Regions from separate parts of the Homo sapiens genome. Here all the other regions are linked to region 2. Evidence: fine-mapped expression QTL. A gene starts in region 2. Each other region holds a variant in brackets. All regions are shown on one strand. Distances are from middle to middle.

Region 1 (2,759 bases), 69 kb before region 2:
AGGCCAAAAGGAATATTAAGTATGCCTTTGCTTTCTACACTAGTTGCTTAAGTTTCCTTCCCAGGGAAGTATCTGCAAGCATGACCCTTCATGTTCTTGTGACACTTTTTTTTTTTTGAGGCAGAGTTTTGCTCTGTTGCCCAGGCTGGAGTGCAGTGGCTCGATCTCGGCTCACTGCAAGCTCTGCCTCCCGGGTTCACACCATTCTCCTGCCTCAGCCTCCCAAGTAGCTGGGACTACAGGTGTCCACCACCACACCGGGCTAATTTTTTTGTATTTTTAGTAGAGATAGGGTTTCACGGTGTTAGCCAGGACGGTCTTGATCTCCTAACCTCGTGATCTGCCCACCTCAGCCTCCCAAAGTGCTGGGATTCCAGGCGTGAGCCACTGCACCCGGCCCCTGTGACACTTTTACCACACAACATACAATACTGTATTACATATGTAACCATCCTTCATCCCTAACCACACTGTGAACCCTGGAGGGTAGGGACCATGAGCACATAATACTCAAGTACTATTAGTCCAGTGAAGAAATGACTAATAGCCGGATCATTCTTTCTTTCATTTATGCAAGAAATGCCTACTGAGAATTCGCACTGTGGAAAGGGCAAAGGATACACGCAAATTAACGTTAAATACTGGTTCATGGTTAAGACTGTGATGGTAATAGAATTACAGGAGGAAGACAAGACACTGGCGGCACCTGGGCCCAGGCTGCCACACCCTCTGCCCGAAGAGGGCTGGCCATCAACACAAGTGGCATAACCAGAATGGAATCTGTCCATTGGCACAACTCCTCCATATAAAAAAAGTGATCCCACTTCCTCTCTGTGAGACTTGTTCAGTTTTTTGCCTCTATTATCTTCTGCAAGAACCTAATCCTTATATAACAGAGGTTAGAAATCACTGAGAAGACATTTAATTCTTCTAAAGTGTGCTTCTAGAATCTTTTTCTTTTCACAGTCCCCTGGGCAGGTTAAGGAGGCACAGGTGAGAAGGAACCAAAAATATTTCTCCCCTGTTGCCACCTCCAATTAAAATATGTCTAATATTTGTGAATACTGCCACGTGTGCTCTGTTAGTGCTGGCCAAGTGTGGACCAAGAATAACTTGGGAGAGCCAAGTCCTATCAGGTGTAAAGAAAACTGTGGTAGCAGCTAAGACAAAAACCTTATGATTTGGAATAAAATAAAGCTTAAAGGCCAGGCGTGGTAGTTCAAGCCTGTAATCCAAGCACTTTGGGAGGCCGAGGCGGGTGGATCACCTGAGGTCAGGAGTTCAGGAACAGCCTGGCCAACATGGTGAAACCCCGTTTCTACTAAAAATACAAAAATCACCTGGGCGTGGTGGCCGGTGCCTGTAATCCCAGCTACTAGGGAGGCTGAGGCAGGAGAATCCCTTGAACCCAGGAGGCGGAGGTGGCAGTGAGCGGAGATTGCGCCACTGCATTCCAGGCTGGGTGACAGACTAAGACCTTGTT[T/C]CAAAAAAAAAAAAAAAAAAAAAGCATAAAGTTCACACACCCAGACATTATTAATCTTTTTTTTTGAGACGGAGTTTCGCTCTTGTTGCCCAGGCTGGAGTGCAGTGGTGCAATCTTGGCTCACTGCAACCTCCGCCTCCTGGGTTCAAACTATTCTCTTGCCTCAGCCTCCCAAGTAGGTGGGGCTACAGGAATGCACTACCATGCCCAGATAATTCTGTATTTTCAATAGAGATGGGGTTTCACCATGTTGGTCAAGCTGGTCTCAAACTCCTGACCTCAGGTGAACCACCTGCCTCGGCCTCCCAAAGTACTGGGATTACAGGTGTGAGCCACCGTGCCCGGCCTGACATTATGAATCTTTTTTTTTTTTTTTTTTTTTGAGATAGGGTCTCGCTCTGTCACCCAGGCTGGAGTGCAGTGGCGCAATCTTGGCTCAGTGCCAGCTCCGCCTCCCGGGTTCATGCCATTCTCCTGCCTCAGCCTCCTGAGTAGCTGGGACTACAGGCACCCACCACCACGCCCGGCTAATTTTTTGTATTTTTAGTAGAGACGGGGTTTCACTGTGTTAGCCAGGATGATCTCGATCTCCTGACCTCGTGATCCGCCCTTCTCGGCCTTCCAAAGTGCTGGGATTACAAGCGTAAGCCACCGCGCCCGGCCAACATTATGAATCTTTAATTAGACATCACAGTCCAAGATCAACTAGTATGTGACCAATAAGCCAGGTTTTCTTCTAGCTCCCTTCCTGGTTTCTCTTCTGTTCTTGTGGCCCAAGGTCCTCTGGTAATGGATGGATTGTCCACTTCTGGGATCTTGGTGTCCTACCGGGCCTATGGTTCTCTCTAGGATAAAGTGGCTCAACATAGAACACAGCTCTGGTGCCAAGATGTCTCTGAGCTGAATCAGTCACCCTTGTCATTTCCTCCCAAGTCCCTAGGTCACTACCACAACAGGAACACGCAGGCAGATGTTCATTGTTTCCAGTTCTCTTTTTTGTTTTATTTTTGAGACAGGATCTTGCTCTGTCACCCAGGCTGGAGTGCAGTGGCACGATCATAGGATCACAGCTCTCTGCAACTTCAAACTCCTGGGCTAAAAAGATCCTCCCACCTTGGCCTACTTAATAGCTGGGATTACAGGTGCACGTCACCATGCCAGGCTAATTGTTTTATTTTAAATTTTTAAATTTTTTTTTCCTTTTTTTGAGATGAAGTTTCACTCTTGTTGCCCAGACTAGAGTGCAGTGGCGTGATCTTGGCTCACGGCAACCTCC
Region 2 (2,759 bases):
CATGTCGTTATGGATTAAAGCTGGGAAGAGCCTCTATCAGGCTAGTTGGTTATTTCATCATCCTGATGTGATAGTGGGAGCTAGGTGTGACAGAGCTGGCTGGCATTCCTTCAGGGACCTTCATAAATGAGAAGCTCAGCTCTCCTCAGAGTTCTCTGCACAAGGCTCCTTCCATTTCCTGCTGCCTGGCAGGGGCAGCCATCCTCAGGTGGAAGGGTCTCCTCTGTGTGGATATGGCAGATCCTTGAGGGTTTTGGACAGCTAGAGAAAAGCTGGGGAAAATGGGTGATTTTTCCAAGCACTGAATGGTCTTTCCCCCTCTTGTATTTCAGACTAAAGCAGCTTATGTGCTATTTTACCAACGTCGAGATGATGAATTTTATAAGACACCTTCACTTAGCAGTTCTGGTTCCTCTGATGGAGGGACACGACCAAGCAGCTCTCAGCAGGGCTTTGGGGATGATGAGGCTTGCAGCATGGACACCAACTAATGCTGACTCCACGATCCTGCCACCCTGTAGCGCCAGTGTAATCCCCCAGGAGAACATCTTTGACACTCTGCAGACTGCTAGTGTTCTGTCTAAAAACCAGACAAGGAAATACCCTTCTTTTATGAGCAGAAGGAAACAAAAAAAAAAAAAGAAGACCGTTTACCTAGAAGAAGCTATGTCAAGAGGCTGAATTATTTTTATTTTTAAACAGGTGGTGAGAAATTTCTGTGAAACCTGTGAAGCTGAAAAGGGGGTGGGATGGGGGTACTCAATGGAGTATGTCTGATGGATCCCGAAGAATGGAGAGGAACACAGGCGCTGAGTATGGAGCAGCCTGGAGACCCACCCCACCTGCAGGGCTGCCCTGAGCGCCTGGATTTCTGGTTCTGATGCCAATACTAGTCACCCCAAGTAGTCTGCTCACAGTAACCCAAACCTCAAGTAAACTCCCCTTTCCCTCGCTATGTGCACTGATATGGGTTTATAATTTTCTGAAAGTTACCCACTGAAGCCCATTTCTCCGTTGAGTCATCTTGTAATTTCCAGCTTTCTCCCCGCTAAGGAAGATATCTAGTGTTGGGGATCCTGGCCCCTCAACCTCCTGTGGAACCCAGCAGTTCTGTTATATCCCCTGCTACCCTAGATGAATTAAGACGGTTAAATACTGTGTGGAACTTTTATTAGATAACACACTTTTTATTAGATAACGCTTAAAGGAAGTCAGTACATAAAACTGCCCGGTGCTGTGTCCCGTCTAGTTGTTTCCATGTTGGCTTGAGAACAGAAATCTTTGTGGGAGTTAGCCGGGAAAGGGCTCCAGTTCATGGCGATTTAGGGTAGTAATACATTTTGGTGTTACCCAGATGCTTTCTAGAACGGGTTCTTTCCTCATCCCTGCCAAGACTCTTCCCGGGGCCCCCATTCGAAAGCCCCGTCCCCACTCCCACCGCGGGGCCAGCCGCTGCGTGTGGGCAAGGCCTTAAGGAACCGGACGTATGGGTCCGGGATTTTTTGTCTGACCTTCAACCTAATCCGTGGGGGTTTGGGGCCTGCGCGGGGCACGCGCATGCGATGACCGTTGGATGGGTCGGCGTCACTGCGCTGCGGGTGAGGACAAGGACGTGGCTGCCGACTCGCCAAAGGGGGGGTGCCGGTAGGGCCAGCGGCCTGGGAGCCGCGGTGGGGCGGGAGGCAGCGGCGGGGCGGGCCAGGAAGCTGTGGGAAGTGGGGCGGGGCGTCTTTGGGGCTTCTGGCAGATGGCGGGTTCCTCCGCGAGAGCCGAGAACCGCCTACTCCAGGAGGAAAGCCCGAGGGTTGTGGGTCCTGCTATAGCCAGGGCCAAGCTCCAGGAAATCGTGGCCATTCAGGGGTAGTTTGCAGCCTCATTTGTAACATTATTGTGTTGTCCTGTGCATTTCCAATGCATTACATAAAGACATGGTCGCTTTTAGGAGAAATGTCTGAAAAACTAAGAAGATGCAGAAAGGAACTGACTGCAGCCATTGACCGGGCCTTTGAAGGAGTTAGTTATTCCCAGGAGTGCACAGGCCAGCAGAGGCTGGAACTGAGCGCCGCGCCGCTCTCCTTCTCGCTGCCCGTGCACAGGCTCCTCTGCAGAAGACATCCTCTGGCAGCCTGCTCTTCTGCTGCTCCTTTTGCTGCTGTCCCATGTGCTCCTGAGAATGAGAACCCTGCCTTTGCAACAAACCATGCCCCGGTAAATGCAAAACCACATGCTCTGTGCCCCGAGAGAAAACCTCTAACCAGCAAGGAAAATGTATTGATGCATTCCTCCATTTTGGCACCTGAAAGAGAGTCTTGGAGAACTGCAGGAGAGGGGGAAAACTGGAGAAAAGAAAATTTAAGGTGATTCTAATTTTGATGGTTTAACAGCTACAATTAAGGGGATTCTTGTTTCTGAAAAAGTTGTTGAAGATCCTAGATTTAGTTCATGACAGTGCTCTTGCCTCCTCTTGGCAGCTCTGTGACTGCATTTGGGGAGTTGACAGACATTCTTCAGAATCTGGCCTAGGAAACAGTTATATTTTGTGTATATGTTCCAGTTGAGGGGCTAGTTGTCAATCGTTGATGTCAAAAACCAGTCATGGAAACCACTTTGCAGTACCCAAAGGGGTAGTGGATGTAAAATAACCGGGTTTTAAAAATAACCTTATTTTTTAAGTTGCAGAAACAAAAGTCTTAATTCCATCTTAACTCCTGTGTTTGAATCTGGACACTGGGGCCTTTGATACCCTCCTTTGCCCACAT
Region 3 (2,759 bases), 300 kb after region 2:
TGTAGGGCGGAGGTTGTGAGCCGAGATTACACCACTGCACTCCAGCCTAGGTGACAGAGCGAGACTGTGTCTCAAAAAAAAAAAAAAAAATCCCCTATATGTTCAAAAAATTATTGTTAGATGCTCAAAGAATTACTGCAGTCTAATGGAGAGAAGCCAACCACAGTTTTGTTGGATGAACAATGGCCTGTTGATATTCTGCATTCCATGAGCACATGGGCTATGTGCCTTGTTATATCTGTGTCAAGGCTGCTATGAGAAGCAAAACTTGTCTGAAGTCCTCCTGGTTGTCTAGAACACACATTGTTCTAATAATACCTTATTAGATTTTATATCTGGCCTATTCTGCCTCTTCCAGACCCTGACAATGGTAAATCCTGTTTCCCAGGATTCACTCTCCAGGGATAACTTGGCTTACTGACTTCCCCAAAAATGAGGCTCTTGAATCATTTTAGGGAAGCCAAAGCAAAACCCGGAGACCCAGAGGTTGTTCAATTTTTCTCCTCCTGGGAGCCTTCACCTAATAGTGGCAACAATGCCCTCTCCTTAATTAGCTAGGTGTGCTTGCTACCATTTTAAAGAACAATACAGGCCGGGCACGGTGCCTCACGCCTGTAATCCAAGCACTTTGGGAGGCCAAGGTGGGCTAATCATGAGATCAGGAGTTCACAACCAGCATGGCCAACAAGGTGAAACCCCGTCTCTACCAAAAATACAAAAAATTAGCTGGGTATAGTGGCGGACGCCTGTAATCTCAGCTACTTGGGAGGCTGAGGCAGGAGAATCGCTTGAACCCAGGAGGCGGAGGTTGCAGTGAGCCGAGATCGCACCACTGCACTCTAGCCCAGGCGACAGAGTGAGACTCTGTCAAAAATTAGCTGGGTATGGTGGCATGTGCCTGCAGTTCCAGCTACTCAGGAGGCCGAGCAAGGATAATTGCTTGAACCTGGGAGGTGGAGGTTGCAGTGAGCCGAGATCGCACCACTGCACTCAGCCTGTCAGCCTGGGTGACAGAGTGAGACTCCATCTCAAAAAACGAAACAAAACAAAACAAAAAACCACATTCCCTACGGTTGCCCATATAGGTGGTATAAAACA[T/C]ACAGCAAAGAAAGAGATGGCAGTTTTTTGTTTGTTTGTTTGTTTTTGAGACGGAGTCTCACTCTGTTGCCCAGGCTGGAGTGCAGTGGTGCGATCCTGGCTCACTGCAACCTACACCTCCCTGGTTCAAGCGATTCTCCTGCCTCAGCCTCCCGAATAGCTGGGACTACAGGAGTGCGCCATTGCGCCTGGCTAATTTTGTATTTTTTTTTAGTAGAGATGGGGTTTCACCATGTTAGCCAGGATGGTCTCGATCTCCTGACCTCATGATCCGCCCACCTCGGCCTCCCAAAGTGCTGGGATTACAGGCGTGAGCCACCGCGCCCAGCCAGTTTTTTTTTTTTTGAGACAGAGTCTCGCTCTATCGCCCAGGCTGGAGTTCAGTGGCACAATCTCGGCTCACTGTGACCTCCACCTCCGGGGTTCAAGTGATTCTCGTGAGATGGCAGTGAACTCTGGGTGTCAAGGGATATGGACACCCAGGGGGCTTCTTAGGCACTAGGAATGTGGTGGGTGCTGGGATGTTTGTCATTATTCTTTAAACTCTGTGTCTTCTGCATTGTTCTAAGTGTATGATACACTTCTCTCTCTGATATATACAAAGAAAAAGAGAGCGAAAGAATGTGGCCCCACAGAAGAAATATGCCACTACCCATGGCCTATCTTCGTTTGGCACTGCAGAGTCAATGTTGCTGTCTAAGATCCTGGCATGACCACTCTGATTGAGAGGGCTCCTGGGGCCGGGAGCGGTGGCTCACACCTGTAATCCCAGCACTTTGGGAGGTCGAGGCAGGCGGATTGCCTGGGGTCAGAAGTTCGAGACCAGCCTGGCCAACATGGTGAAACCGCATCTATACTAAGAATATAAAAATTATCCAGGTGTGGTGGTGGGCGCCTGTAATAGCAGCTACTGGGGAGGCGGAGTGAGAATCGCTTGAACCCAGGAGGTAGATGTTGCATTGAGCCAAGATCACACCATTGCATTCCAGCCTGAGCGACAAGAGCAGAACTCCATCTTTGGAAAAAAAAAAAAAAAAGTACAGGCTCGGTGGCTCATGCCTATAATCCCAGCACTTTAAGAGGCCAAGGTAGGCGGATCACCTGAGGTCAAGAGTTGGACACCAGCCTGGCTAACATGGTTAGACCCCGTCTCTACTAAAAATATAAAAAAGTAGCCAGGTGTGGTGGTGAGTGCCTGTAATCCCAGCTACTCAGGAGGCTGAAGTGGGAGAACTGCTTAAACCCAGGAGGTGGAGGTTGCAGTCAGCCAAGATCACACCACTGCACTCCAGCCTGGGCGACAGACTGAGACTCTGTCTCAAAAAATAAAGAAAAGAGGGTTCCTGGAAATAGCATTTGCATAGGCCCTTACAAAGCAAAATTCTCGGTCGGGCACAGTGGCTCACTCCTGTAATCCCAGCACTTTGGGAGGCCAAGGTAGGGAGATCACCTGAGGTCAGGAGTTCGAGACCAGCCTCGAACATGGCAAACCCCCATCTCTACTAAAAATACAGAAATTAGCCAGACGTGGTGGAAGATGCCTGTAATCCCAGCTATTTGGAAGGCTGAGGCAGGAGAACTGCTTGAACCCAGGAGATGGAGGTTGCAGTGAGCCAAGACTGCGCCACTGCACTCCAGCCTGGGTGACAGAGTGAGACTCC

Direction of the effects. Alleles are on the strand shown, and positions count from the first base shown. SD is a standard deviation of normalised expression in the study named. Not every link is listed here.
For the expression in monocytes after R848 of the gene that starts at base 1,552 in region 2, allele C in region 1 goes with a lower level than allele T (large effect, 1.4 SD a copy in Quach 2016).

What was found. PIP is the estimated chance that this variant, and not a neighbour inherited with it, causes the effect. A credible set is the group of variants that fine-mapping cannot tell apart.
Region 1: its variant is the best candidate, but not a certain one, in a credible set for the expression of C3orf62 in monocytes after R848 (Quach 2016, PIP 0.77).
Region 3: its variant is the best candidate, but not a certain one, in a credible set for the expression of C3orf62 in whole blood (TOPMed, PIP 0.89).

What each region holds. Positions count from the first base shown.
Region 1 is chr3:49,344,934-49,347,692 of GRCh38, reverse strand. No RefSeq gene overlaps it. Among named protein-coding and RNA genes, the nearest start is that of USP4, 6.3 kb to the right of the region's middle. RefSeq lists enhancers at 1,979-2,068, 2,159-2,278. The variant T/C (reference allele first, on the strand shown) is at 1,484.
Region 2 is chr3:49,276,025-49,278,783 of GRCh38, reverse strand. C3orf62 (chromosome 3 open reading frame 62) reads left to right here and starts at 1,552. Exons shown (of 3, transcript NM_198562.3): 1 at 1,552-2,357. The coding sequence starts at 1,912. USP4 (ubiquitin specific peptidase 4) reads left to right here. Exons shown (of 22, transcript NM_003363.4): 22 at 333-1,640. The coding sequence ends at 491. RefSeq lists a silencer at 1,529-1,728 and an enhancer at 1,869-1,938.
Region 3 is chr3:48,975,588-48,978,346 of GRCh38, reverse strand. All of the region lies in intron 11 of ARIH2 (ariadne RBR E3 ubiquitin protein ligase 2), which reads right to left. Among named protein-coding and RNA genes, the nearest start is that of P4HTM, 13 kb to the left of the region's middle. The variant T/C (reference allele first, on the strand shown) is at 1,099.